4 separate regions of the Homo sapiens genome follow, and regions 1, 2 and 3 are each linked to region 4. The links come from fine-mapping of genetic effects on gene expression. A gene starts in region 4. Each other region holds a variant in brackets. All regions are shown on one strand. Distances are from middle to middle.

Evidence for each region. PIP is the estimated chance that this variant, and not a neighbour inherited with it, causes the effect. A credible set is the group of variants that fine-mapping cannot tell apart.
Region 1: its variant is the best candidate, but not a certain one, in a credible set for the expression of CTBS in whole blood (INTERVAL, PIP 0.75).
Region 2: its variant is the best candidate, but not a certain one, in a credible set for the expression of CTBS in whole blood (TOPMed, PIP 0.71).
Region 3: its variant is the best candidate, but not a certain one, in a credible set for the expression of CTBS in whole blood (TOPMed, PIP 0.81).

Annotation. Positions count from the first base shown.
Region 1 is chr1:84,449,487-84,456,983 of GRCh38, forward strand. No RefSeq gene overlaps it. Among named protein-coding and RNA genes, the nearest start is that of RPF1, 26 kb to the right of the region's middle. The variant G/A (reference allele first, on the strand shown) is at 3,957.
Region 2 is chr1:84,606,382-84,613,878 of GRCh38, forward strand. The region is part of intron 2 of LINC01461 (long intergenic non-protein coding RNA 1461); the gene reads right to left. Among named protein-coding and RNA genes, the nearest start is that of LINC01461, 11 kb to the right of the region's middle. The variant T/C (reference allele first, on the strand shown) is at 3,423.
Region 3 is chr1:84,592,582-84,600,078 of GRCh38, forward strand. LINC01461 (long intergenic non-protein coding RNA 1461) reads right to left here. Exons shown (of 3, transcript NR_125761.1): 3 at 5,383-5,515. Among named protein-coding and RNA genes, the nearest start is that of CTBS, 22 kb to the left of the region's middle. The variant C/T (reference allele first, on the strand shown) is at 4,287.
Region 4 is chr1:84,570,840-84,578,336 of GRCh38, forward strand. CTBS (chitobiase) reads right to left here and starts at 3,601. Exons shown (of 7, transcript NM_004388.3): 1 at 3,400-3,601. The coding sequence starts at 3,576. It overlaps LOC105378819 (a long non-coding RNA gene), which reads left to right and starts at 7,177. Exons shown (of 2, transcript XR_947544.4): 1 at 7,177-7,296. RefSeq lists enhancers at 2,191-2,240, 2,954-3,053, 3,164-3,453 and a silencer at 3,614-3,733.

The DNA of each region.
Region 1 (7,497 bases), 120 kb before region 4:
TGACAACGTGTGCCAGGGAGATTAGAGTTACAACTCAACAAACTCAGAAATCAGCTGGAGTAATGAGTTGTGCTTGCAAAATTAACTCTGAATTATTACTACTAGGTATATTTTCTGCATAGAACATTAATAACAAGCTGGCTTTCTTCTGCTATTAGCTTTCTCCCAAACCCACTTACTCTCTTCTCAGATGGTGGGTGCTCCCCAAAGTAAAGTCATTTTAAATGCCATCTGCCTAAAACAGATCAAAATTAGAAGGGAAAATTTGCTACAGGACAATAATGCAATGCATCCCAAGTCCAAACAAGCTACTGGTTCAAAGTTTTGAATAATTAGCACCACAGTCCTACTATTTATGACACCAAAAACTGATTGCTAATAGAATTATATCTTTTTTGAAGATAGATGATATTTCTCTTGGTGTACTCCTAAAGCCTAATCCAGGAGGCTGGGTGACCCAATGAGTTGCATTTTCACAAATTAGTTTCTGGAGAACAGGAGTGTGTGCAGAGCTCTCCCTAGACTCTTATAAGTATATCCAAAGATCCCTCTTCCAACTGTTACACATCATTTCTTTTTCAATTCTCCCCTCTATATCAAATCAATGTTGACATATATTTGAATTTGATGAAAAGTAGATTGCAGGAAACTTTTCAGATATCAGGGTAACCCGAGCATGCTTTGTTATTAAAAGCAGAATCTTTTTAATTGAAAACTCAAGATACTTCAAAGTTCATTGAAGTTAGATATAATTTTTTTCTATTATACACAAATAAGATAGCTTTAACCATATGCTCTTGCCTAATGTTGGGGTTCAAAAAAAATACCCCAAAGTGAAGGCCTAAGAAGCAGCCTCAGAGCAAAGTCTCTCTCTGACCTTCTCCTGCCCTCCTGTCTCTCACCCCTCATCCTCCCCCTAGTCAAGCCTAGTCTAGAAACTAGAATCCAGGGCTGGGTGCAGTGGCCCATGCGTGTAATCCCAGCACTTTGGGAGGCCGAGGCAGGCGGATCTCTTGAGGTCAGGAGTTTGAGACCAGCCTGGCCAACATGGTGAAACCCCATCTCTACTAAAAATACAAAAGTTAGCCAGGCATGGTGGCGGGAGCTTGTAATCCCAGCTATGTGGGAAGCTGAGGAGTAGAACTGCTTGAACCCAGGAGGCAGAGGGTGCAGTGAACCCAGATGGTGCCACTGCAATCCAGCCTGAGCGACAGAGCAAGACTCCATCTCAAAAAAAAAAAAAAAAAAACTAGAACACTTATATGTTAGGCACTGTACTAAGTATTTTACATATGTTCTTTAATTCTCACAATTCTTTGAGATCAACACAATTATTATTTCCATTTGAAAGATAAAGTAATTAAGGAACAAAGAGATTAAGCAATGACACCAGGTAGTAAGTGGCAGAGCTAGGACTCAAACCCAGTTCTACCTGATTCCAAACTCACATTCTTAACTACTCACAAGATATGACTTTAAGTGACATATGTGAACAATAATAGGAATGAAGAAGTAAAACCAATGCAGGACACATTGTGAAGGAGGAATCCATGAAGTTTAGCAACTGTTTCAGTGTATCAGAGAAAGGGGAGGAGTCAGAGATTACTAAGGTTTGAGGGGTGAGTAACTTGAAGAAGTGACACTGTTCAAAGAAACAGGGAGGTCAGAAAGAGCCCAGCCTCGGAGAGGAAGATGAATTCATACTTAGACAACACTCATTTCTAAGCAGGGAAATAGTGTATGGAGAAGAGAGCTACCAATTTCATGTTAGTTTATGCCACTCGGCCACCCAGATTCTCCAAACCCCATGTAGAGACTGGACTAGAACTCCTGGTTCTTGTCTTCCTGAACAGATTTTTCTAACCTCTTCTACTATTTGAACAATCAGCCCAATTTTAAAAGTTAAGTCAGAAGGAAAAATTAAAGAGAGTGATTAAAAAAGGGGTGGCCTTTTTTCTCCAGGAGTTTCTGGTCTGTGTTTAATTCTAAAGCAACCAACACGTGTCTCTGCACAACAGCCAGCAGCATTTTGGCACAAGATATTCATGGATTGTCATAATAGGCAATGCTAACCAACTTAGCAGAAATAAGAATTTAACACCTTTATGAAAACTACTGCTTCCTCTACACCCACCGTGATCACCAAAGTTTTTTCTGAGAAAAAAAACTCATGATTTGTGATTAGAACGTCAGGTTTCTGCCATTAATTAGTTGTGTGACCTAAGCAAGTAACTTGATTTTTCTGTACTCATGTAATTCCCTCCTCTATTAACTTGAGTGGGTTGACTATATTCAATTTAACTCAGATTTAACTAACATTTACTCAGCCAATGCTAGGATTCTTTCCAACACTTTATATTCCATTATTCAAAATGGTAGAAAGAAGGGGCAAAAGGTCTTGAGCCTAAATAGATGAGAGCTGAAAGCAGTGCTATAGTTCATTTCATGCAATTCTCTTAGTTTATAAACCAAGAAAGTGAGGCCCAGAATCTTGACTCACTGTGGATAAAAAGCTAGTTAGCAACCAAGTCCAATCTAGAACTGAGCCCTGATTTGCCTTCTTGGGCTTTTCCCGCTACACCACAGTGTCCTTTCTACCCAGCTAGTTTAGGAATGTTTGTCTTAGATCAACTCAGAATGAGTTACAAAAGGAAAAAACACAAAGCCTGGCTGATCTGAGAGAGATTTATGTGTTGGATTTAAGTTCTTATAAAATAAAATCCCGTAACACTTCAACTGCAACATAAAGTATTAGGCTATGTTACATGCTCTTTATAGCACAGTATAATGGCTAAAGCCTAAGGCAGAACTTCTGTTCTTACTGCCATAGACACAGCCTAACTTCCAAAAGGTTATTCTGAAGTTGTGAATCCTGAGACAACAAAAAAGAGGTGATGGTGCCCCCCCAACCTGGGTAGCTCACTTGGCCAAGTCTGCATTTGGTGCCCACTTTGACTTTGCCACTGGAGGATCAAAGGAGGAAAAAGATGCTCAGAACTAGGTAGAGAGGAAAGAAGGGGGGTGAGAGAGGGTGCCAGCCAAGCCCTTCAGCAGCATTGCAGATCTCCATCTCTAATTCCCCATCTCTTTACTTCTGGTTCTAAGAAACATACAGAAATAGAGGAACAGCCAACACAAAATTCAAAAACAGAAACTATAGTGAGAGTTGGCATGGCACTGCCGTAGGAGCTTCTGCCATAGGCAGAAGTACACACTGCCTACCCCAAGAGCTGGCTCTGCTCACAACTTCCTTGCTGAGCTGTGACGTTTAATAAGACCCCCTGGTCAATGCCTTAGGTTCCTTAGACACCGGCATTAAATGAACACAGAAAGACTAATAAATAGAACTAATTCATTGTTTTTATAAATAAGAGTCTTTTTACCTTCTAAATAGGAGTAAAAATGAAAAAGATAAATTTAACCACATTCGGCCAGGCACGGTGGCTCATGCCTGTAATTCCAGCACTTTGGGAGGCCAAGGCGGGCAAATCACCTGAGGTTGGGAGTTCAAGACCAGCCTGACCAACATGGAGAAACTCCATGTCTACTAAAATACAAAAGTAGCCGGGCATGGTGGCACATGCCTGTAATCCCAGCTACTCGGGATGCTAAGGCAAAAGAATTGCTTGAACCCGGGAGGCGGAGGTTGTGGTGAGTGGAGATCGCGCCATTGCACTCCAGCCTGGGCAACAAGAGCAAAACTCTGTCTCCAAAAACAACAACAATGACAACAACAACAAAAATTTAACCACATTCTTCCTTTGAGGTAAAACCATCTGGACCATCAAATAACTGCCCACTCTGAACACAAAGGAGCATATCTCCTCTGACACTTGCATGTCAAGTCTTTCTAGGGCCCTTTTCTAATTGATAGGCTTTATTATATTCACAATCCTACATCTGATGTACATAATACACCTCTTATTCTAAAATGAATATTTTTAAATCACAGTAGT[G/A]TTCATTCATTTATTTATATATCAGCAAATATTTATTGAGTATCACTTACATGCCAGGCACTGTTCTAAGTGCTAGGAATAGAGCAGTGAACAAAATAAACAAAAATCCTGTGCTCATGGAGCTCACTTTCTAGTTCAAATCTCTCCCTCTTTATTTTCAAAGTGCTCAATTTCATAAATGCTTGTTAGCCCAGGCGCCGTGGCTCACGCCTGTAATCCCAGCACTTTGAGAGGCCGAGGCGGGCAGACCACCTGAGGTTGGGAGTTCGAGACCAGCCTGACCAACATGGAGAAATCCTGTCTCTACTAAAAATAAAAAATTAGCTGGGCTTGGTGGCATGCGCCTTTAATCCCAGCTACTTGGGAGGCTGAGGCAGGAGAATCGCTTGAACCTGGGAGGTAGAGGTTGCGGTGAGCTGAGATCGCTCCACTGTACTCCAGCCTGGGTAACAAGAGCAAAACTCCATCTCAAAAATAAATAAATAAATAAATAAATGCTTGTTGAATGAATAATAAATAACATTTGGGATAATCTGTGAGAATCAGACAAATTATACAGATTGTCTGTGAGCCATATAAAATCTAAGACAAAATGTATGAATTTAATTAATCCTTGAATTTTTACCTCCATTTCCTGTCAAGTCTCTTTTTCATTTTTGCCAGCCTGCTGTAAAATAAAATAAATTCCTAGGAAGTATTTCTTCCAAGGCACAGAGTATAAAATATCAACAAGGCCGGTCACAGTGGCTCACGCCTGTAATCCCAGCACTTTGGGAGGCCAAGGCGGGCAGATCACAAGGTCAGGAGTTTCAGACCAGCCTGGCTAACATGGTGAAATCCTGTCTCTACTAAAGATACAAAAATTAGCTGGGCGTGGTGGTGGGCACCTGTAATCCCAGCTACTCAGGAGGCTGAGGCAGGAGAATTGTTTGAACCCGGGAAGCGGAGGTTGCAGTGAGCCAAGATCACACCATTGCACTCCAGCCTGGGTGACAGGGCGAGACTCTGTCAAAAAAAAAAAAAAAAAAAAAAAAAAAGGCCAACAAAAGAGAAAAAGGCATTTATAAACAGAAAAAAGAGAGACAGCCTGGTAGTGATCACCTTCATTCAGTGAAGTCCTACATTTAGAGACCTTGTCCTCTATGCCAAGCATCAAATTTTTAAAGACCCAATAAAGTAGCATTTCAAAAACCAACACTAAACGAATTAATAACCTGGCTGAACACTTACTTCAAGGAGGTTCAGAGCTGACCCTCTAGAGCATGGCCTTGGGGTTCCATGTTGGTTTACGTTCATCTGGACCCGGTGTAGTACTGCTGACTTCCAGTCAGTTGCAACTTCATTTTCATAGTGTCCTGGGTGGTGCAGCCTGAGGAGGGGTGGGTCAGGCAAATAGGTGTTTCATAATGCAGTCAGGTACAGAGCAAATCCTTTGCCTCTGGGAAGTAAAGTTAAAAGGATAAGAGATTATGAGAGAAATCCACTATAGCACCAAGGAATGGTAACAAATGTGGAAATGTGGACATCAAAGCCTGGGTAATTAGTAAAGCAAATCTCCAAAGAAAAAAATGGATGAAGTCATCTTTCACATTCCCCTTCTAAGCCGACTGGATGAAAGAATAAAGGGATTTATTATTTTATCAGGAAATCAAAAAAAGAGAGAGAGAGAAAAGAAATATCAGAATGACACAAGCATTTGCTAGCAAAAATAATGCTAAATTCATCTCAAGGTAGCTTCCACTTAGAAGGCAAACCTATAATAAAAGGAATGAAATAGGCTTTCTTTGCCACCACTCAAGCAAACTACCATTTATATTACTACTAGCTACATTCATATCCAAAGAAAACAGATGAAGTCAAACACAAGTTTTCAAATACTACCAAGGATATACAGGTAAAAAGAAATCATAGGCTGGGAGCGGTAGCTTGCACCTGTAATCCCAGAACATTGGGAGGCCAAGGTGAGAGGATCGACTTGAACCCAGGAGTTTGAGACCAGCCTGGGTAACGCTGGGAAACCCAGCCCTTTAAAGAAAAAAAAAATTTAGCCAGGCATGGTGGCATGTGCCTGTAGTCCCATCTACTCAGGAGGAGGCTGAGGCAGAAGGATTGCTTGAGCCCAGGGGTCAAGGCTGCAGTAAGCCATTATCAAACCACTCCACTCCAACCTGGGTGACAGAGTGAGACCTCATCTCACAAAAGAAATCACAGCAAGTAAACTACAAACATGAACAAGAATACAAAGTGGTCCTATAGGGTCCAGAATATAAGTTACCTCCATCATGAGGATAGTGGTAAGAGGTAGGTCCAAATCTCGATTCCCGTCTTTGGTTATCTTCTCAAGCAGTCCCCTGTAAGAGGGATAACTTCACTGCTTAGTAATGACAAAGCAGTTCTCTGTTTATTAGAGGAATCCCAATACTGTAAAAATGAGCAATAGCTCTAAGATGCATATTAAAATAACATTCAAGACCATTGTGACTTTTGTGAAATGGCCTCTAACACAACATGCAGCTGAAACATCATGTATCAGTATGGCTTGGGAAGGGGAAATGGATGGGGGAACGGGGGTGCAGGTGTATGAGGAGAGGAGGCATAAGTGCCCCTTTTTTAGTATTTTATTGTTGTCGTTCACTAATTCTAATTGTTTGCTTTTGAATACTTAAAAATATTTTAAGGGTATTGATTCCACCTTCTCTTTCAAATTTTCAATTATCTCTCCAACTTCCTTTACTGGCTTTCCCTTCCTTTCAGCGCGTTTATTCTCCCTGTTTACCTCAGTCTTCTCTGTACAGCAAAGTTCCAAGTTTCTGTAGCAGAGAAATAAATTAGCTAAGGAGAGGGAAAGAGATGTGATCAGGATTAGAGGAAGAACCATTTTAGCTTCCTTGGTCCCTGATTCTATCAGAACATCTATGTAATCTGGTGAAAATTATTGCAGAATGTGGCAGTCGTGGAGGCTTAGGAAAGAAACTCCACCATTATAAATTCCAGCCAAGAAACATGTGAAAACATTCAGTCATTTATTGCACCCACATACAATCCACCATCTGGATTCACATTACATAAAAGCATGCAGAAAGCTTTGCATGCCAGAAGTCGAAGGTGTGCATGAAAAAGTTGACTAAATAACCCCTAGCCAGTGACTGAAAAGCCAGTGTTGAAGATGGACAGGCTGTGTGATGGGAAGTGTGGCTTCCAATAGCTCTTTCAGATGATTTGGAAAATGCATGACTATTGTTCATCTTCAGATACAAGCATCATCATTGCTGATATTACAGTGACTAAAAGAGCTACTATGTACCCAGGAAAGCAACCCAATATATGAAGTAGTAAATTTATACTCTCCATCTGTGGGTAAAATATAAGACAAAACATAAAAACAAAATGATTATAAAGAATGATAATAAAGATATGTTGAAAGGCACCATTATTTTTATTACTAAGCTACTGAGGTATTGTGAATTGTTAACTTGCTTTATTTTCTTTCCTTGTGCCTTTTCATTTTTGTTCTATCTTCAACCTGAACCTCCCATCCCCC
Region 2 (7,497 bases), 36 kb after region 4:
GGAAAAGGAAATACTTTTTAATGTGCATATCAGAGGGCCTAAGAAGGACTAGGACCAAACCTCTTAATTACTCTAAACTGTCCTTATTGAATCAGAAACCAGATAAAAATCTCCCTACCTTTTTGGAAAGGCTGAGAGAAGCTTTAATAAAACACACCTCCCTGTCTTCCAATTCAACAAAAAACAGGTTCATCACTCAGGCAGCCCCTGATATCAAAAGGAAGTTGCTGAAACAGGCCATGTCTAAAAATCTTTCTAGTTTTTCTCACTCTCAAGTTGAAACTTTGCAGTATGTAAATGACACTCTCCTCTGTGCCCCATTCAAGGATGTCTCAGGAAGGCACTAAGACTCTTCTCAATTTCTTAGCTAAAAGGGAGTATAGGGTCTCAAAATCTAAAGCTCAGCTCTGTCAAACTTCAGTAAAGTACCTAGGCCTAATCTTATCAGAAGTGTGGGGGATCGGTCAGGGTGGTGAAAAAACTATAGGGAAAGGACACAAACCTTCTGAAAGGTCGGAAGTTTCTGCAGAGCCCCAGGGAAGAATGGCTGAAGACAGCTGTTCTATAACCCTAAGGCAGAGGGCAAGGAGTAGGTACAAGGGAGTGTGGGGGAATTTATCTTAAACCGGTTTGTTTACTTATGTTGACCAGGAACTGACCTTGGATCATCCCCATGCAACATTCCCTGAAAGGGGAACAATAAATGTTAATTACCTGCAGGTTGTGTTGGCTCCAGGTTTTCGGCATTGTGCCTGCACTGAATAAAAGCAAACAGCTCCAGCTTCTCGGGACTGCTGTCTGGCCACTGGAGCCAGGCAGTCACCTAGCTGCTCTTACACTGCATACCTGTGTCTGAGTACTCATTTCACCCATCGGCCAAGGTCTGTGGGACAGACACAGCACAGAAGGAACCAGAGTACCAGGTGAGGAAAGGATTAACCCCGTTTCCTTTAAGAGTTAAGAAAATTATTGGGCATTACTGAATTTTGCAAAATGTGGGCATTACTGAATTTTGCAAAATGTGGGCACCAGGGTATGGTGAAATAGCTCATCCTTTATACCAACTCTTAAAAGAAACTCAAGCAGCTCCCTAACTTGGGAACCTAAAACACAAAAGCCTTAAACCAGCTAAAGCAAGCCTTGCTTAAAGCACCAGTTCTCAGCCTTCCCATAGGGAAGGTATTTAATCTTTATGTATATTGGAAAGGAAGAAAATAGCCCTGGGAGTTTTGACTAAGACTGGAGGTCCAGCTCTACAGCCAATGGGTTAACAATGGGGAATAACTTAACTGTTTAGCTCCACGCAATATAACAAGACTACTGTCCTCTAAGGAAAGTCTGGCTAACAGACAATTGCCTCCTCAAATATCAAGCTTTGCTGCTAAAGGGATCTGCAGTCCAGTTGAAAACCTGCCACTTCCTGAGCCCAGCCACTTTCTCCCAGAGAAAACTGGAGAACCTAAACATGATTGTGAACAAGTAGTGGTGCAAACTGGGGGAAAAATGGTAAGAATCACTGTTTATCTTCACTGTAAAGTTTTATTTGTGAAAAAGGATTTTCCTAAAGAGCACTCAGCTTAATTCAAAGTGGATATCAAACCTATGGGTATATTTTAAAGGCCTTTATGTTTTTCTCTTTATAGATCTTGTTTTCCTGGAAAAGGTCTTTTTTTCTCAGTCAACTGAGAAAACTGTGACTTACCACTCTTGGTGCATGCATGAAAGACCCTAGAATGACTTCTGGTAGCCTGGGACTCCTTGGGAAAACAGAAAAGGTGCCACAAATCCCATTTTGGGAAAAATCTGTTTTCCTCATGGAACACCTGGAATTAAAGGTGAATAAGTAGTTCTCAAAATCTATCTTTGTCTTCCAGCTTTGCTTGTTTATTAGGCCCTGGAAACTGTATTCCTAGCCCTGTTCTTAAAGGGTCTCACCAGGAGGCTAATAATCCAATTGGGAAATTAGCAAATGAAAAATTTTAGAACCACTGGATCTTTTTCTGTTTGTCTGTGTGGTTATATATGTGTTATGTGTGTAATGTCTATTTGAAAAGAGCTCCAATTAATTGGACTAAGAAAAATAAGCACTTAAATAAAGTATTTTTAAAGAAAAAGTAAAAGCTGTGGTACCTTTCAGTTCACACAACTTTAATCTTCAAAAATAAAAACAGTCTTAGAAACTATTGGTAAAATACAAATGTCTTCAGGATGTAAAAATGTGATCTAAATTATGCAGGTCAGATACTAGGTTTGATAAATGTTTTAAGGTTGTAACTGCTTTTTTAGCCTTTAAATATTGTCTACTTGCCTGCTTCACAATTGGTAAGGCCTGGGAACATATGGAAGTAACCATGCCCCTAATGATGCTGAAAGCAGTCAAACTTTATCTGCATCTAGCACATAATTAAAACAACCTACCAGGTTTTACATCAAAGTTAAAAATTGCTAAGTGTTACCATTATGACATGTAATGAGACTAGTGAACATGGATTTGCATGCAAGGTGTGTAAAAAAACAGTAAAAGCTGTTTTTAATTAAAGATAAGAAGGCATGAAAATGTACATTTTGCCTAGCCATAAAGGATTGTCTTAAATAAAATAAAGCAGAAGGTTTAAGCAAATTGTAAAAAGATTGTAAAAACTAATCTTGCAAAGGAAACTCTGTGTATGAACATATTAACTAATTTCAAAGGGGTATTATATAGTTTTATAAATTAAGGATTAAAATGCAAGCACAGGGTTTTCTTAAAATGCTGATCTACTCTTTAGCAAAATTTGTAGAGGGTCATAAAAGGTTTGTGTAAATCTCACCTCATGGTCAAACTGGTTAAGATTGAATAGGATTGTCTATAAAGTTTCATTAAAAATCAGGGTTAACATTAATAGCAAACAAATGCAAGGGTGAAATTTAACATTCTCTCTTGAATAGGATTTTCATGTAATAGAAAGGGCTGATGAATGGTTTTTGCTTTTTCAAATTTTTGACTCATAATTTTGGCAAAACAAAAAACTTACAGTAATCTAATATCAAGTGTTTTAAATTTTGAACATATTTAACAGGCTTCCCAAAATCAAACTTTAGTTTCAAGGTTGTCTTTCCTAGCCCCTAGCTTTTTGTTCTGCACAGGGCTCCTAGAACATCCAGAAGAGAGGTAAATAGGATTATTTAACTTGTTTAGGTACATGGAATTGCCAAAATGATGTCTAATACTCTTCAGGTTATATTTTAGGGAATAATATTAACATATGTTCCAAAACTGTATGGAATGTCTAAGGTACTAGTGTCTGAATAATACGCGCTATTAATCACAATTAAGGTTGTTATGTTAGGTTATTGTAAGCCACAGAAACAACCAAATTTGTCAATCATGTTCTTGACTGTAACCACCCTGGACATTTTGTCATTTACAAACAATTGTTGTC[T/C]TGTTTGAATCTTTTTCTTAAAAAAAATAGTTTCTAATCAGCTGTGGAACTTACATAGGTGCTCTTAAATGCAGGTTTTTGATTAAAAAATGTATAGGACTCATACAAAGCTGAAATGTTTATGAATAACAAGCAGATCAAGAGTTAATGGAATGGGCTGAACTAATAGAAAACTAAAGCAATATTCTTGATTTATGCTTGTAACACTGGTGATCCTTATTTTGTTTTTCAGAGTCAAGGAAATTTTCTTAAAAGCCTTTAAGAACTAAGTAAACTATACTCCTGTAAACAATGTTTGGAGCATGTTTGTTTCTCTCTGCCTAGTTCTTCTAGAATTTGGAAACTAGTTATAAGTATTCTTGAATTACAACTATATAGTTATTTGCATCAGTGCAACAAGAATCCATTTTCTTTTGCAACAAAACACAATTGGAAAAACTGATTGTTTTACCAAGGCTTTGACTTCAAGGCTTTGACTTGCAGAGCCAATGAAAGCCCTTTGGGAAAACTGGCTGCATACCTTGTCTACACAGTCTCTGTACAGTGTTCCTGACCTGTGGTGCGTAAAGAATGTCACTTTCTAACAGGCCCGGAAACCCCATGCTCCTGGAACCTCAAGAAGAAAGAAGTTTATCCAACTCACAGGTATTTGAGGGTACAAACTCATGGCTGGGCTTGGCTTCAAAAAGTCCTATCCAAGATTCCTTGTGGAACAGAGTTCTATCAAAACCAATCAAAATACACAGAGGTAATTATTCTTGCTGTACTTTTTGCAGATAATCAGGCCAAGTATAGGACTAAAGTTTATTCTGCAACCAGCTCAGTCCTATCATAAGTTGTTTTTCATAAAAATGAGAACTGGAGAGAGAAATTATGTTCCACACTTACTGTACATCTGTGATATAGTTTGGCTCTATGTCCCCACCCAAATCTCATCTTGAATTGTACTCCCAGAATTGTGGGAAGGACCCAGTGGGAGATAATTGAATCATGGGGGCAGTTTCACCCATACTGTTCTCATGGTAGATAAGTCTCATGAGATCTGATGGTTTGATAAAGGGAAACCTGTTTTGCTTAGCTCTCATTTCTCTCTTGCCACCACCATGTAAGACATGCCTTTTGCCTTCCACCATGATTGTGAGGCCTTCCTATCCAAGTGGAACTGTAAGTCCATTAAACCTCCTTCTTTTGTAAATTGCCCAGTCTCAGGTATGTCTTTATCAGCAGCGTGAAAATGGACTAATACAATCTGTCATTGACTTCTAGTCTCATTAGTTGTTTGTAAGTTCTTGCCAACATTTTAAACTAATCATGCTTATTCCTGTAAACCAATCATCAATCTCCAGCTGTGGCTCAAAGGAGACAGAAAGGAATGGGTAATATAAAAATCTGGAACAATGTGCTAGTTCTGGGCACTTATGCTGCAAATCCTGCCAGGTAACCTATAACCCCAAGGTTTCCTTTTCTGGCGGGGACAGTAAGACCAAGGGAGCTAAACAAAGCCAAGCCCCATACACCCAGTTACAACAGCACAACCCATCTAAATGGCTCACAGATATCAAACAAACTCTGTTGTCATGGTTATGGCCTATAGTGCCTCACTAATAATGGTAGTCTTATATATATTTGGACCCTATATTCTAAACCTCCTTGTAAAGTTTCTCTTCTCACCTAGAAACCATCAAGCTTCAGATGGTGCTGCAAATGGAGCCAAAAAGGAAACCACCCTTCTACCAGGGACCCTTAGATCGACCCCAGGAGGAGCCCTAGATGCTGTTCCCGTACCACGCCCTCTCCAGCGGGAAGTAGCCAGAAGAAGTTGTTGCCCAATTCCCCCTAACAGCAGTTAGGGATTCCATTCCTGAGGGGGAAATATGTTATACAAGACAGACAGAATTTATTTAGGTAGACAGTTAGGGTAAAGCGAGTCCCCAGCAGAAACTTTTCTTCTAACAAAAAGCAGCTCAGAAATAGCTCTCTTTCTAACCTCATGCAGTTCAAAGAAATCACTTCTCTTCTAACAAAGAACAGCTTGAAAGATCAGGCTGTAAAAACAAACAACTCGGGCACAGAAGGACAGGGGGAGTCCCCTGGGTAATCACCAAACTTCACACTCCTACAATGGACCCCAGTAAAAACCGTGGGCCTTAATAAGCACATTCCTTTCCCTTTAAGCACACTAAGATAGAGAAACTAAAAGCGGATTGTGGGGAGATGCCTGCAGCTGCAGGAAGATGTCTGGGAACAGACACAGAAACTCTCCCTCCCAGATAAGCAAAACAAAGCAGCACAAAGCAGCAAGGACTGAGTCTGCCTATGTGATCAAGGAAATGAGGTAAGAACTGATAGAAAACTCTGCTCTATGCACATAGGACACCTGGTCCCAACTAAATCTTCAGGCCTTAGGAAGATAAGACACTCCCTCTTTTTTTTCTTTTTTTTTTTTAAGAGAGAGTTGCTCTGTCGCCAGGCTGGAGTGCAGTGGCATGATCTTGGCTCACTGCAACCTCCGCCTCCCAGGTTCAAGCAATTCTCCTGCCTCAGCCTTCCGAGTAGCTGGGACTACAGGTACGCACCACCACACCCAGCTAATTTTTGTATTTTTAGTAGAGACAGGGTTTCACCATGTTGGCCAGGATGGTCTCGATCTCTTGACCTCGTGATCTGCCCGCCTCAGCCTCCCAAAGTGCTAAGATTACAGGTGTGAGCCACCGTACCTGGCCAACCCTGACATTTTTACTAAAACTTGACAACCTGCTCTGGACCCCTCTCTGTGACAGAGAGCTGTTCTTTCCTTTTGCCTATTAAACTCCTGCTCCAATCTCACTCTGTGTGTGTGTCTGTGACCTCAATTTCCTTGACTGTGAGACCAAGGACCCTGGTATTTACCCCAGACAATGAGGCTCCTTCAGTGAGATTAGAGGCATGAGCTACCACATAGCCGGAGTCTACATACTCTTAACCCTCTGGTCTAAGAGAGGAGGCAGCTTTGGAGCCATTATCAATATTCACGAGTTCGACAAACATTGCCTCAGCAACTCCACCTTGCCAGACTGAGAATACAAATAGAAATGCAGAAAGGGTCAGATGCAATGACAGCTGCTTATATTCCTGTTCTCAAGGAGGGCACATTTTATCAGGAAAAAGAGATCTGTAATCAATAAATATGATTCCTCTAAGAATGTTAACCAAAGATTGTTCAAAGTGCTACTCAGAGCCAGCAGCAACCAGCATGGATTTGCTTTGCTAAGGATGATGTTGGATTTGGATATTGAAAGAGTAGCATAAGCTCACAAAGCAGAGAAAGGAGGGAGGGAGGAAGATAAGATTCAGGGCAGAAGGAAATGCAGAAATGACTTAAAGGAAGCCTTACCATCTTGGCAAGTCTGGCAAAGAATGACTTATCTCATGAGGCTGGATTGAGACATGTTTACCAGACACTCTGGATCGACTCACTCAACATCTGTTCCCAGTGTTCTGCCTGTTCTACAGATCTAGAAATAAAGCCACGTTTCCAGAATTCCTTGAAGCTATGGTTCTGGATGTGATTCTGCCAAACAGATCTACTTTGGAAGGCCTACCAGTCTGTGGTATGCAGTGGCAGAACAGTTATTTAAATTATCACTTGTAGGCCAGGCATGGTGGTTCATGCCTGTAATCCCAGCACTTTGGGAGGCCGAGGAGGGTGGATCACCTGAGGTCAGGAATTTGAGACCAGCCTGGCCAACATGCTGAAACCCCGTCTCTACTAAAAATACAAAAATTAGCCAGGAGTGGTTGCAGATGCCTGTAATCCCAGCTACTCAGGAGGCTGAGGCAGGAGAATCTCTCGAACCCAGGAGCCAGAAGTTGCAGTGAGCCAAGATCGCACCATTGCACTCCAGCCTGGGCAAGAAGAGTGAAAATCCATCTCAAAATAAATACATTGTCACTTGTAGTCACCTGGGAGAAAAAGTATCCATGGAAATCAAAACGCTGGAAGGCCAAGTGGCTATGGTAATAAATCTTCATGGCAAGAGTGAATAATTCAAAGATAGTGGGGTTGGCTAGCTTCTTGAATTCTTATGAACATAAA
Region 3 (7,497 bases), 22 kb after region 4:
CTAATAACCTTGATGAACATCAATGCAATAGTCTTCAACAAAATACTGACAAATCAAATCCAGCAGCGCATCAAAAAGCTTAAGCAGGCCGGGTGTGGTGGCTCATATCTGTAATCCTAGCATTTTGGGAAGCCAAATCGGGTGGATCATTTGAGGCCAGGAGTTCAAGACCAGTCAGGCCAATACAGCAAAACCCTGTCTCTACTAAAAATACAAAAAAAAAAAAAAAAAAAAAACAATAGCTGGGTGTGGTGGCATGTGCCTGTAGTCCCAGCTAATCAGAAGGTGAGGCATGAGAATCACTTGCTTCTGAAAGGCAGAGGTAGCAGTGAGCCTAGATTGTGCCACTGCACTCCAGCCTGCGGGACAGAGTGAGACACTGTCTCAGTGGTGGCACACTCCTGTAATCCCAGCTACTCAAGAGGCTGAGACAGGATAATCATTTGAACCCAGGAGGCAGAGGTTACAGTGAGCCAAGATTGCGCCACTGCACTCCAGCCTGGGTGATAGAATGAGACCCGGTCTTAAAAAAAAAAAAAAAAAAAAAGCTTATCCACCATAATTAAGGAGCTTTCATCCTCAGGATGCAAGGTTGGTTCAACATATGCAAATCAATAAATGTGATTTATCACATGAATAGACCTAAAGACAAAACCCACATGATTATCTCAATAGATGCAGAAAAGGACTTGATAAAATTCAACATCCCTTCATGTTAACAACTCTCAATGAACTCAGTATTAAAAAAACATACCTCAAAATAATAAGAGCTATATATGAGAAACCCACAGCCAATATCATACTGAATGGGCAAAAGCTAGAAGTATTCTCCTTGAAAACTGACACAAGACAAGGATGACCTCTCTCACCACTCTTATTCAACATAGTACTGGAAATTCTGGCCAGGGCAATCAGGCAAGAGAAAGAAAGAAAGAAAGGCTATTCAAATAAGGAGAGAGGAAGCCAAACTATCTTTGTTTACAAATGAAATGATCCTATATCTAGAAATCCCCATTTTCTCAGCCCCAAAACTTCTTAAGCTGATAAGCAACTTCAGCAAAGTCTCAGGATGCAAAATCAATGTGCAAAAATTGCTAGCATTCCTGTATGCAAACAACAGGCAAGTGGAGAACCAAATCATGAATGAACTCCCATTCACAATTGCCACAAAAAGAATAAAATACCTAGGAATACAGCTAACAAGGGAAGTAAAGGACCCCTTCAAGGAGAACTACAAACCACTGCTCAAAGAAATCAGAGATGATACAAACAAATGGAAAAACATACCATGCTCATGGATAGGAAAAATCAATATTGTGAAAATGCCCATATACTGCCCAAAGCAATTTATATATTCAATGCTTTAATAAAACTACCATTGACATTCTTCACAGAATTAGAAACAACTATTTAAAAATTTATATGGAACCAAAAAAAAGCCCGAATAGCCAAGACAATCCTAAGCAAAAAGAACACAGCTGGAGGCATCATAGTACCCAACTTCAAACTATACTACCAAGGCTACAGTAGCCAAAACAACATGGCACTGGTACAAGAACAGACATATAGACCAGTGGAACAGAATAAAGAATCCAGAAATAAGGTTACACACCTATAGCCATCTAATTTTCAACAAACTTGACAAAAACAAGCAATGGGGAAAGGATTCCCTATTTAATAAATGGTGCTGGAAGAACGGGGTAGCCATATGCAGAAAATTGAAACTGGACCTCTTCTTTACACCATACACAAAAATCAACTCAAGATGGATTAAAGACTTAAATGTAAAACTCCAAACTATAAAAACCTTAGAACAACCCTAGAACAAAATCTAGGCAATACCATTCAGGACATAGGCATGGGCAAAGATTTCATCATGAAGACTCCACAAGCAATTGCAACAAAAGCAAAAATCAACAAACGAGATCCAGTTAAACTAAAGAGCTTCTGCACAGCAAAAGAAACTATCATCAGAGTGAACAGACAACCTACAGAATGGGAGAAAATTTTTGCAATTTATCCATCTGACAAAGGTATACAAGGAACTTAAATAAATTAACAACAACAACAAAAAAATTAAAAAGTGGGCAAAGGACATGAACAGATGCTTCTCAAAAGAAGACATATATGTGCCCAACAAACATATGAAAAGAAGCTCAACATCACTGATCATTGGGGAAATGCAAATCCAAACCACAATGAGATACCAGTCAGAATGGCTATTATTAAAAAGTCAAAAAACAACAGATGCTGGCAAGGTTGTGGAAAAAAAAGGAACGCTTTTACACTGTTGGTGGGAGTGTAAATTAGTTCAACCATTGTGGAAGACAGTGTGGCAATTCTTCAGAGACCTAGAGGCAGAAATACCATTTGACCCAGCAATCCCATTACTGGGTATATACCCAAAGGAATATAAATCATTCTATTATAAAGACACATGCATGCATATGTTAATTGCAGCAGTATTCACAACAGCAAAGAAATGGAATCAACCTAAATGCCCATCAATGATAGACTAGATAAAGAAAATATGGTACATATACACAATGGAATACTATGCAGCCATAAAAAATGAGATTATGTCCTTTGCAGGGACTTGGATAGAGCTGAAAACCATTATCCTCAGCAAACTAATGCGGGGACAGAAAGCCAAATACCACATGTTCTCACTTATAAGTAAGAGCTGAATGATGAGAACACAAGGACACATTGTGGGAAACAACACACACTGGGGCCTGTCGGAGGGTGGAGAAGATAAAAGGGAGAATATCAGAAAGAATAGTTAATGAATGCTCGGCTTGATACCTAGGTGATGGGATGATGTGTGCAGCAAACCGCCATGGCACACGTTTACCTATGTAATAAACCTGCACATCCTGCACATGTAGCCCTGAACTTAAAGTTTAAAAAAAAGGCAACAAAAAACCTTTCCTAAAGATTTGATCTTACATCAAGTAAACCCCAATTATTTTTGAGGAGTGCGTCTTCCTTCAAAATAACAGATTATACTCTCAAAGCTTTAAAAATAAAACACCCACACTCATACACACAAACTGTGTCAGAGAAACATTTCCAGACTGTTAGTGGCACTTCTGTAAATTCTGTGAAAAGATTTTGTGTCCTATTATATTCTTGAAAAATATTTTGGTTTTTTAGGATTCAAAAAATGAAAGGTTTCAAAAGCAAAGACAGTAGCAAAAGCGGCAGCAGGTCAGTGACACCTCGAGCTCTGACACAGCAGCAGCAGCTGCCACCTCAACAGCAGCCTCCATGGCCACGAACTTGTGTTATGTGAAACATAATTTTCCATATAAAATTATATTTAATATTTAAAAATAATAGAGACATGATAGGGAATATTAGAATCCAATTTTTCTACTTGAATTTTTCTTTTTCATTATAGAGCCCCATGTTATGGTTGAGCATGAGAAAAATGGTTTCATATTAACAGTCCCTGATTACAGCATTGAACTTTATGATGAAAAACCATGCAAGGTCCTCCTTCCTGTACTACTTTAGTCCAAATAACCATCACCTCTCTTTGGGCTGGCTGTAATAGCCTTCTATTTGAACCTCTTATTCCCTCAAAGCAGCCAGAAGTATCTTTCAAAATCATAAATCAAATCTTACCACTTTCCAGGTGGGTGTGGTTGTGCACCCCTGTAGTCTCAGCTACTGAGGAGTCTGAGGCAGGAGACTCATTTGAACCTTGGAGTTCTAGTCCAGCCTGGGCAACATAGAGAGACCTCATCTCAAAAAATTGAAACAAATAACAAAAACAGAAACGAAAAATGAAAAAAAAATCTTACCACTTTCCATCACATTCCAAATTAAATACAGAGTCCTTACCGTGGCCTCTAATGCTCTTAAACTCTGGCAGGTCTGGTGTCTGGTGAGGGTCCAGTTTCTGCTCCCAAATGGCACCTTTGTGCCACATCCTCACATGGCAGAAGGCTGAAGGGCAAAGAGGGTTCAAACCATGTGTGAAGGCTATTCTTTAAGGGCTTTAATCCCATCCATGAGGGAGCAGTCCTCATGACCGGATCACCTCCTAAAGACCCCACCTCTTAATAGGATTGCTTTGGAGATTAAGTTCCAACATGAATCTTGGAGAGGACACTTTCCAATCATAATAATGAGGAAAAATGAATACTTTAGTAACAATTTCTTTGGGCCACAGACACAAATCAACCGATTTGACCACGTTTTTCCAATGAAATGACAACCTTAAATTGATCATTTGTGATGTCAGGTAGTCATTTTGGGATATTTATTTCTTGCAATAA[C/T]CTTTTGATGGAGTTATTATGACTCCCATTTTACAAACGATACAACTGAAGCCTAAACAGGCAAAATGACTTTTTCATAGTCACACAGCTAATAGCGGTAGAGCTGAAAATGAAAATCTCCTGATCCTTGATGTTCTACCATCCCGGGTCCTACTTTAATTGGGAAATGGCAACCTCATTCAGCTCAGTGAAGGCTGGGTCACTTGCTAGGTTACAACTTCAGTGATCAGGGCACTTCAGTGGCTCTTCAGAGTTCATTTGTATATAAGTGAAGCTCTCCCTTTTGTAGACTTCTCTCTGTGTAAGTACAAACCAACCAGAGGCATGGCTATTGCTTTCCTGTCACTTAGGAATGAAATTAATGACTCCTTTATGTCCCATGCCAGGCAATCATCTCAATAGTTTGTGCAAGCTTAGCTTATCTACACAATATCAAACAGGCAATCACAGTTCTCCCATGATGCCAGGCAAAACAGAACTTTGTTTCTCCTACATAAAAGAGCACAACATCACAGGTTTAAAACCTCTCACCCTCAGTTTCATCTCACTATTATTGTGTTAAACATGCTTAATGAAAAATCTGGGCTGGGTTCTTTTCTGTCTTCCCACAATGAAAGTCACAGGAATGGAAACTCGGTTCCAAATGTTTCCATGTGGAAATGAAGTTGAGAGAAAGCAGTCTCATAAGTATGTGTTAAGTGCCTGTGGAAGCAGAGTCTCATGTTAGACGCAGTGACATTCAGGAACAAATCAGAACACATATTCTTGGCCTCCTGAGCTATCATTGTTGTTTGAAGAATGGAGCATTTACCATCTAATAAAAAAGTGAAAGCCTAACACACAAAATCAATTTTAAGACAAAGGCTAGGACTTCTCAATTTAGAAGAGGAGATACTTGAATTTTTCTCACACATCATCCCTCACCAGGGCTCCTGAGTAGAACATCTCAGACAACGTAGGACATAATTTGAAAAGTACTGATCAAATCAGTACAGCACTGATTAAAGAGCAGGTATTGAGTGCCACGCCCATTGGGTGTTGATCCAGGGAAGAAGCTGGGAGCCCTAGTCTTGGAACCCACCTGAGGATAGCCTAGAATGTCGTTCATGTACATAGTCTTCAACCTTTTTTTGCAAGGGCTGAGGTCCCTGGTCTTGTTCACAATCATCCTGCTGTACTTTTGGTCTTCTTGGATGGCATATCTGGTGGGCAAACTCCAAAACTGCCAACTGCAAACAAGAGAGAGAACAATCCCTCTGTCATCTGGCCATCCTACCCCGCAGCTGAGGGGAGTGTCAGCGAACCTGGAGCACCTCCCGCAGTTCACAGACTAGTTATGTTTTCTTGATGGTCACATGCAGCATGTGGAGGATACTACAGAATATGTTGATGATGGTTTTCAACATCTTTTCAGAAGCATAAAATTTCCAGCCTTCCGTGGTATGTTTAAATTTCACAGGGTCAGAGAGGTGGGCTGCCATCATAGCGGTTTGGGGGCCAGAAACATTTATATTTATTAATTTGAGGAGATCAAATCTAGAAGCAAGATTATGGGAAATGCTAACATTTTTCAAACAAAAGCGTTCGAAAGAAAATATGAGAAAACATCCTTAGTGTTTGAGAATTGTTTTTTAGTTTACTCTAGCAGTCTGTTTATTCTTTCATCCTATAAATATGTAGCAAGTATCTGCCTTGTGTTAAGTCCTGTAATGTGCTAAACGTTGGGATCACTTTCAAAGAGCTGGATGAGGTTTCCATGATGTCATACCACCTTGAAGATTTTCCAGGCCATTTAAGGCCTTCACTTACTGTAATTTCTCCCCAATTCCCCTCCACTCCATTTCTGAAAAAATACAAGCCTTTGGGAAATCCACCAGACCTGGGCAGAAGCCTAATTACCCTTTTGGAGACTCCCCAGGGGCTCCAGTGGTCCTCATTGTTTTGATCTCAGCCTCCTGACCTGGTTTAGAAGCAAACCTGGAGTTGCATGGGGTAGCATTTTATCATCTGCAGGTAGAGATCTGGCTAGTTGCTTGCATATGAGAAAAAGAGAACTGAGAGAGCCAATTTCAAATTGAGTTGGCAGAAACCAGTGTGCAGGAAGAACTATTCTGGCAGTTTTTAAATGACTTCCAAAGTATTTTGCATTTGAGAGAGCAACTAAACTGGTAAAAGAAACACTTGGATTGCACGGAATTGACTCAAGTGTAAAATAATATGGCTAATTTTCTCTTTTGATTTGGGATGATTGATGGAGTTGTGTGGAGGAGTGTGGGCAGAGAGAGCGTCTTTCTCTCCTTTCCCTGCCCTCCCACCAGTTCCACCTTACAGGACCTCTCTGGGCTCCCTTTAGGAATGCTATATAGACTTAGCTCTCCCTGCAAACTTGGGGGCGAGTCTCCTCCAGTGTTAACTCTGAAAAATTCAGGAGAGCATGAGTGTTTTAAGACCACAGGCTTTCTGATGTGTGACTCAGATCTGTGTTTAAAAGAGTCCATAACCCTAGAAGATTCTGATCATGATGGAAGAAGAATTTGCACTGTTCTCACTGATTAGACATGGAAAATCATTAGTTTCGCTTCTAGGGAAGAATTTAAACAATTGACAAAGCTATAGATTTTGCAGTCACAGCAGGGAGAAAGTGGAGGAAAAACATTTAAACAAGCAAAATTATTGATAAGAAATGGGCCCCTGTCTGGTTTCTATAACTTAGTTCTTCTGACTCATAGATGTTATAAAAAGCATCCTGCCTGAGTCAGAAATTTATTTTGGAGATATTACAGCTGCTCCCTTCCTGTTGAAAGGCATTTGTGAAAAAACTGTATATGACTAAAGACTTATATCAGCATTAGAAATGGTCGAGGCTAGGTGTACCCGTTATACTAGCACTTTGGGAGACCAAGGTGGATCACCTGAGGCCAGGAGTTCAAGACCAGCATGGGCAACATGGCAAAACCTCGTCTCTACAAACAAACACCCCAAAAAAGAAAAATTAGCCAGGCATAGTAGCACACACCTGTAGTCTCAGCTGCTCAAGAGTGAGGTGAGAAATTCACTTGAGCCCGGGAGATCAAGGCTGCAGTGAGCCATGATGGTACCACTGGGCAACAGAGTAAGACCCTGTCAAAAAAAAAGGAAGGAAGGAAGGAAGGAAAGGGAAAAATGGTCCAGAAGAAAGGTGAAAGTACAAAACAGAAGTGTGGGCCCTCTG
Region 4 (7,497 bases):
GCATAAGACATAGGGGTCCCAAGATAATTGGTGGCAGGGGTAATTAGCCAGGCTGGGAAAGAGGGGAAGGATGGGCCAGGAAGGAAGAGTGGCAAGTGCCAAGGCCTGGAGGCAGAGACAACATGGTGGTTGCGTAACTAAATATTTAGTATGGCCGACGTCTAGAATTTGGGGAGAGAGCATTAGTGAAGGACCAGAGAGTAGTAGGCATGGATTAAATCATGAAAGGCCTCATAAGCTCTGTTGAGAAGTTAGTACTACCTTGTTTATCCTGAGGTAAAGGGAGAGAATAAAAGCATTTTTAAAAGGGGAAGGTATGCATTTTAGAAAAATATTTTCAGCTGCAGTGGGAAAAGGATTAAAGAGACACCAAAACTGGAGGCAGAATACAGAAACTGTTGGAGGAATCCAAGTAAGAGATGATGGTGACCTCAACTAAAATTGTGGAGCAGTGGCGTTAAGTGAACAGATCTGGAAGATCCTAAGGAGGCAAAATTGACAGGACTTTGTGACTAATCGAATGAGTAATCAAAGGAGAGAAGTCTGATAATACTCAAGTTTCTGGCTACTGCAGATGGAGCCATAAATACATTTACTGTTTTTTGTTTGTTTGGTGAAGCTAGCTTCTTAGAATAGTACCTAGGTCAAATTCTAAGGCACCTGATGTTGTGTTTCTCTGATATTTTCTTCCCACAGTTAATTCAAGAAGCACAGAAGCCTCACTGATTATTTTTATTTTATTCCAAGGCATTAATTCATTGATTTGGCAAATATTTATTGAATTTCCAATAAGGTACAAGGAGAGTATTTTGCTAGGCTCTAAGGAGATAAAGATTAATGAGAGAGACCAGGTCCAGTAAGGAGTTAACTACTTAATTACAATGGTATTAAGGACTGTAGGGGTTACAGGGGGCCACGCCAGCATATAAAGGGGACCTGCTAGCCAGATGGTGCACGAAAACTTTTCTGAGGACTACACACTTTCGGAGTGGGCTGAAATCAGCAGAATGATGGAAGAGATATACCTATGGACAAAAGATTGCATTCTCAACTGAGGGAAGGGAAAGCCCAAAGGTCGCTACACCTCAGGAGAATTCTGAGATTCTGGAACTGAAAAAGGTCAATGTAGGTAGAGCACAGAAATCCTGCAAGTATGTGGAACTGGATAAAACCTTTAAAGTCGGTAGTGGAAAGATTAAGTAGGACTTCCAAGACCACTGAAGATGTTGTATTTTATCTTGGGATCAGTGGGAATCAATTAGAGTTTTAATTCAGGGGATATGCATTACAAAAGAGATCACTGGGTCCTTGTGAGGGGAATGAATGAGGGAGAGACAGTGGGGATAGCAGCTGTAAAAGTTAAACCAGGCATTTCTTAATTTTTTTTAATTTTTTTTAACTTTTCAGAATTAATTATGCATAACTCATTTTTTCTGCTAAGCAATTGCCTACTGAAATAATAAAAATTCATAATGTGAAATTAAGTGGCCCATTGTTTTCTGACTCATATTTCTATCAAAACTTCTATTTTAGTTCTGATAATTAAGATTCTATTTGTTTAAAAAATACTAAGAGCCTGTGATATAACAGATATCCTTAAAAAAAAAAAAAGCTGGGTGAACTAATTGAAAATATAAGGGGAAAATGCCATGTAGTCTAGTTTTTGTGTTTGAAAAACATAGAAAACGCCAGTAGAGAAAAAGACCATTTACCATGAAGATACAAATAAGCATAATTTTGCTTCTTTGAATAGTTGGTTTTCAAAGTGCCCACAGATATTGCCTAACCCACTAAGTATTGGGTACTACAGTAAATCTTTCAGGTTTTTTTTTTTTCTCTTTTTTGAGACATAGTCTTGCTCTGTCGCCCAGGCTGGAGTGCAGTGGCGTGATCTTGGCTAACTGCAACCTTCCGCCTCCCGCTCCGCCTCCCAGGTTCAAGCGGTTCTCCTGCCTCAGCCTCCCAAGTAGTTCGGATTACATGTGCCCGCCACCACGCCCAGCTAATTTTTGTATTTTTAGTAGAGACGGGGTTTCACCATGTTGGCCAGGCTGTTCTCGAATTCCTGACCTCAAGTGATCCACCCACCTTGGCCTCACAAAGTGCTTCTCAATCTCAAAAAGAGATTGAGAAAATTAAGAAATGTCTGGTTGAACTTTTACAGCTACTGTCCCCACTGCCTCTACCACCGCGCTGGGCCTCAGATTGTATAAAACATTTTAATTGGGAGGCCATTATGCTGAAACAGCTCCAACTGCCTTGGATTTCCTGCTTAAGCAAACTCCAGCCCAAGGTCAACAGTGAAAGGAAACTTAAGCTTAACCTATCAGAAACTGCCAACTAACCTCTAACTAGTAATTTTCCACCAAGTCATAGCTAAATAAGGCAAACAGTCATAGCCAACCAAGTAATTATTTTCCTTTGCTTCCCTGTTCGGCCTATAAAAGCCCATGCTACTAAAGCAGACCTCTCTGAACCCCTTCTGGTTTAAGTACTGCCGATTCATAAGTTGTTCTTTGCTCAAATAAAAAAGGTTATCCTACTTTGTCTGAAGTCTTTCTTTTAATAAGATGTTAGGTTTCCACACTAGGCAGGTTCTCCATAAACACTTTCACCATTTTTATTTCTTCTCCTAAGTCATGTATATATACTTTTTTACTGGCATCTAAGTGTTCTGCCTCAGATTAATGTACTAGATTAAGAACTAGGAATCATGCCTATTTCTACAAAAGAATCGTTCTTTGAATTAAGCCTTTGGACCTTCCTGATGTCATCCAATTCCTGCTTTCAGTCATCGAAGTGGGCAGTCAGGTGGTTTTAATATTGCTCCAGAAGGTGTTTGATTAAAGTTGCCAGAAGCCTTACAAATTGTTATGTAGATAGAAGGAAAATGTACTGAAAGCTATTTTTTTTACCACTCTTCATGGGTGGTTTTGAGGTACTTTAAAGGAAAGGGCTAGCAGGTATAGAAAACTAAAGGTAAGCAAAATACTCTGCATTCTAATGTACTGTTGGAGTGCTGAGATTCTTTCAAACGAAATCCTCGTTCCTTGGAAACATAAATGGATTATCCTACCTTGTTTGCTTTTTACACCCAGAGTGCTTCCGCAGAGGCACAGCAGGGGAATGAAAGGAGCTTGCCTTAGGAGGCAGATCTGGTTTGAACTCTCGCCTGCCTACGCAGGCACTTACAGGCTGTGAGGCCTGAGGAGTTACTCAACTTCTCTGAGCCCGAGCTTCCTCATCTATAAATTGAAGGATCCGTAAACAGGAAGGCCCTCATCGAGTGGTCAAAGCTGGTTTCGGCGCCCACGGCACCTCTCCTTAGGGCTCCGTTCTACCCTAACTTCTCTTCGTGCCCTGAAGCCCAGACCTAGAGGAGCAGAGGAAGGCGCTGACCTCGAAATCTGGATGGTGGCGAATCGGGCGGCAGAGCTCAGGCTCCGGGCATGGGCAGTCGGTCCCGGCCGCGAGCCGCAGCGCCAGCAGCGCCAGCAGCGCCAGCAGCGCTAGACCCGGGACGCCGCTCGGCGGGCTAGAGACGAGGCGCCAGCGTCGAAGCTGCGGCCGGGACATAGCAGCAGGTCTAGCGGGCCGGAGTGGGTTCCTACCGCCTGGGTGGGCGGGGCCTGCTGCGCGTCGGGGCAGGAAGGGGCGGGGAGAGTCGGGAAGGGCGGGGAGGGGCGGGAGGGGCGGGGCTCCGGGGCGGGCGTGGGAGGTCGGGCTTCGAGCGTCCCCGGGCGCTACAGGTGGGTGAAGTTAAGTGGCTGCTGGAGCGTCTCGGGGGACAGCCAGTGTCTGCGGCGCCGAGAGGGCCGTTCGTGGACTCAAATGGGTATCACCCCTACCGTTTATAGTCCTCCCAATAGTCTGCATCTCGTTTTGTCGTGGCTGGTCGTGTACTCCTTGTGGAGTCTGAAGGTACAAGGGGATCCCCAAAATGGAGAAGTGGGTGTCTTTGGAAGGGCCTACTGAGTAACATGGTTGGAGTGGCCAAAAGACTTTGTTTTTCTTTTGCTACTCAAAAGAAAGCTGGAATACCAAAAATTTTTACTTACGGATATCAGGTCTTAGTTAAGATCGTGGTTTGAATTCAAGCATCTAATTTTGCCTACTCTCCTGTTAAAAATCAAGTTTAACAACCTAAACACAAGGACAAAGAGATAACAGCAACAAAATGTTGGAAGCTGGAGAGCACAAGTATGAGTATGAGAGGTAAATCGGAAAAGGGGGAGATTAGTCAAAGGCTGCTCAAGGACTCTGATCGCTAGATCCTTTTTCCAGCTTCATGTCTCTGGGCAGCTGCCCCTCTTTCCCACCACGGGCTCCCACCCCGGCTGAATTCCCTGAAGGGGATAAATTCTCTGCTGAGTGGGTATTCCACCTAAAACGGAGAATAAGTGGCTTTATGCCTACTGAAAACTGAAACCCCTCGCTATCTGATTAACCTAAGAGGCTGAGCAAAGATACTGACATCGGGTTTTCTGGACAAATCATACACCCAGATCACCCTACAGTGAAATTCAAAGTTAAAAGCACCAGCTATCTACTTGGAGCTTCCTCTCTTTGTACTTTTTAATTTTTACTTTTAATCATGGACAGCAACCAAAAAAATCCAATAATGTAGAAAGAAGGGACCCAAACAACAGACAAAGGAATATGGAGGAAGCAGATGCTGCAGGGAGAACACTTTTAAAAATTCTCATAATAGCCCCAGAAAAATAAGAGAAGATGAAGCCACAACAGGGTGCAATAAAAGGGGTAGGGGATTTTTAAAAGTTAATAGAAATAAGAAAGAAGTGAAAAAACTATTAGTAGAAGATAACACTGAGGAATGTAGAGCAAAAACTCTGAAAGATAAGAAAATTGGAAAACGCAGTACAGAGGGGATGAAATAAATAATTCTTAAAGGTGCTTGAGAAGCAGCGTAGTACAAATAAGAAGAAATAAGTAATTTGGGCTGGGCACAGTGGTTCATGCTTGTAATCCCGGCACTGTGGGAGGCCGAGGTGGGCAGATCACTTGAGCTCAGGAGTTTGAGACCAGCCTGGCCAACATTGTGAAACCCCATCTCTACTAAAAATACAAAAATTATCTGGGCATGGTGGCAGACACCTGTAATCCCAGCTACTCGGAAGGCTGAGGCAGGAGAATCGCTTGAACCTGGGAGGTGGAGGTTGCAGAGATCACACCACTGCACTCCAGCCTCAGCAACAGAGTGAGACTCTGTCTCCAAAAAAAAAAAAAAAAAAGAAAAGAAAAGAAATAAGTAATTATCAAGGCTCCAGGACTGAAGAACACGCGTTTTCAGAATGAAAAGCTAGGCCAGGCACTGTGGCTCACACCTGCAATTGCATAACTTTGGCAGGCCAAGGCAGGAGGATTACTTGAGGGCAGGAGTTTGAGACCAGCCTGGGGAACATAGACCCTGTCTCTACAAAAAATAAAAAGCAAAAAATTAGCCCTGTGTGCCAGTGCGGTGGTAAAAGCTTGTAGTCCCAGCTGCTCGGGAGGCTGAGATGAGAGGATTGCTTGAAGCCGGGAGGTTGAGGCTGAAGTGAACTATGATCATGCCACTGCACTCCAGCCTGGGTGACAAAACAAGATCCTGTCTCAAAAAAAAAAAAAGTACAATTGAACCTCCATAACCAGAGGTTCCACATCCATGGTTTTAACCAATGTCAGATAACAGTATTTAAAAATAACAAATAATACAGCAATTTAAAAATGCAAATAAAAATACGGCAAGAGCACTGTCAACATAGCATTACATCGTATTATTATAATTAATCTAGAGATTATTTGAAGTACAGGAGGATGTGCATAGATTATGCCATTTTATATAAGGGACTTGAGCATCCATGGATTTTGGTATCTGGGAGTCCTGGAACCAATCCCTCATGATACTGAAATGTAACTATGTTTTTAACATGAATGGTTGCACTGAATCAAGTTTTCAAGGAAAAGAGCCTTCTGACTCATAGAATCAGACTGTATTCTGTGACACAGAAGAAAACACATATCTACCTGTGTTAGGGATCCCTAAGATCACCTCCAGGTTCAGTGATGCACTAAAAGAACTCATAGGACTCAGTTGTACTCACAGTTAAGATTTATTACAGCAGAAGAATATGAAGCAAAAGAGCAAAGGGAAAAAGTGCACAGGAAGAAGACAGGAGGAGGCCAAGCACAAGCATCACGTTGTAACATGTGTGAAGGGCTGTCTGCCATGGAAGCTCATTAGAGACTCAGGGAACAGCAGGAACACTCCCAAATCCACCTACAGGCCAACCTTCAGGAAGCAGGCCTTTCTAAAGATCGCAGTCTTAGGCCTGTTACGGTAACTCTTTTCTGCATACTAACCAAATGAGGAATTCCTACATATTTGTATTGAATTTTATATTGGTGCTGTACATTCTATGGGCTTTGACAAATGTATAATGATGTGTATCCAGCATTATAGTATCATACAGAATAGTTTCACTGCCCTCAAAATTATCTGTGCTCTACCTATTCATTCCTCTCTCCTTGCTAACCACTGGCATCCACAGATTTTTACACTGTCTCCATAGTTTTGCCTTTTCCAGAATGTCACATAGTTGGAATCTTACAGTATATAGCTTTTCAGATTGGCTTCCTTCACTTAGTAATACGCATTTATGGTTCCTCCATGTCCCTTCATGGCTTGATTGCTCATTTCTTTTTAGCACTGAATAATACTTCATTGTTGGGACGTACTACAGTTAATCCAATCCTGCAGCATCTGCTTCCTCCATATTCCTTTGTCTGTTGTTTGGGTCCCTTCCTTCTACATTATTGGATTTTCTTGGTTGCTGTCCATGATTAAAAGTAAAAATTAAAAAGTACAAAGAGAGGAAGCTCCAAGTAGATAGCTGGTGCTTTTAACTTTGAATTTCACTGTAGGGTGATCTGGGTGTATGATTTGTCCAGAAAACCACTGATGTATCTATTCACCTACTGAATGGATTTTGTGTTATCACTTTTTTGAATTTCACTGTAGGGTGATCTGGGTGTATGATTTGTCCAGAAAAACCCCTGATGTCAATATCCATTCACCTACTGAAGGACATCTTGGTTGCTTTCAAGTTTTGAAAATTATGAATAAAGCTGCTATAAACATTCATGTGCAAGTTTTGTGTTATCACTTTTTTTTTCCAGACAGGGTCTCTGTCACCCAGGCTAGAGTGCAGTGACTTGATCAAGCTCACAGCAGCCTCCATCTCCTGGGGTCCAGCAATCCTCGCACCTCAGCCTCCTGAGTAGCTAGGACTACAGGTACATGCCATCATGCCTGGCTTTTATGTATTTATTTATTTATTTTAGTAGAGGTGAGGTTTTGCTATGTTGCTCAGGCTGGTCTGGAACTCCTGTGCTCAAGGAGTCCTTCTGTCTTGGCCTTCCAATGTTCTGGAATTACAGGCATGAGCCACTGCGTCCAACCCTGTGTTATAACATTTTTAAGCCAAGGAGAAATGT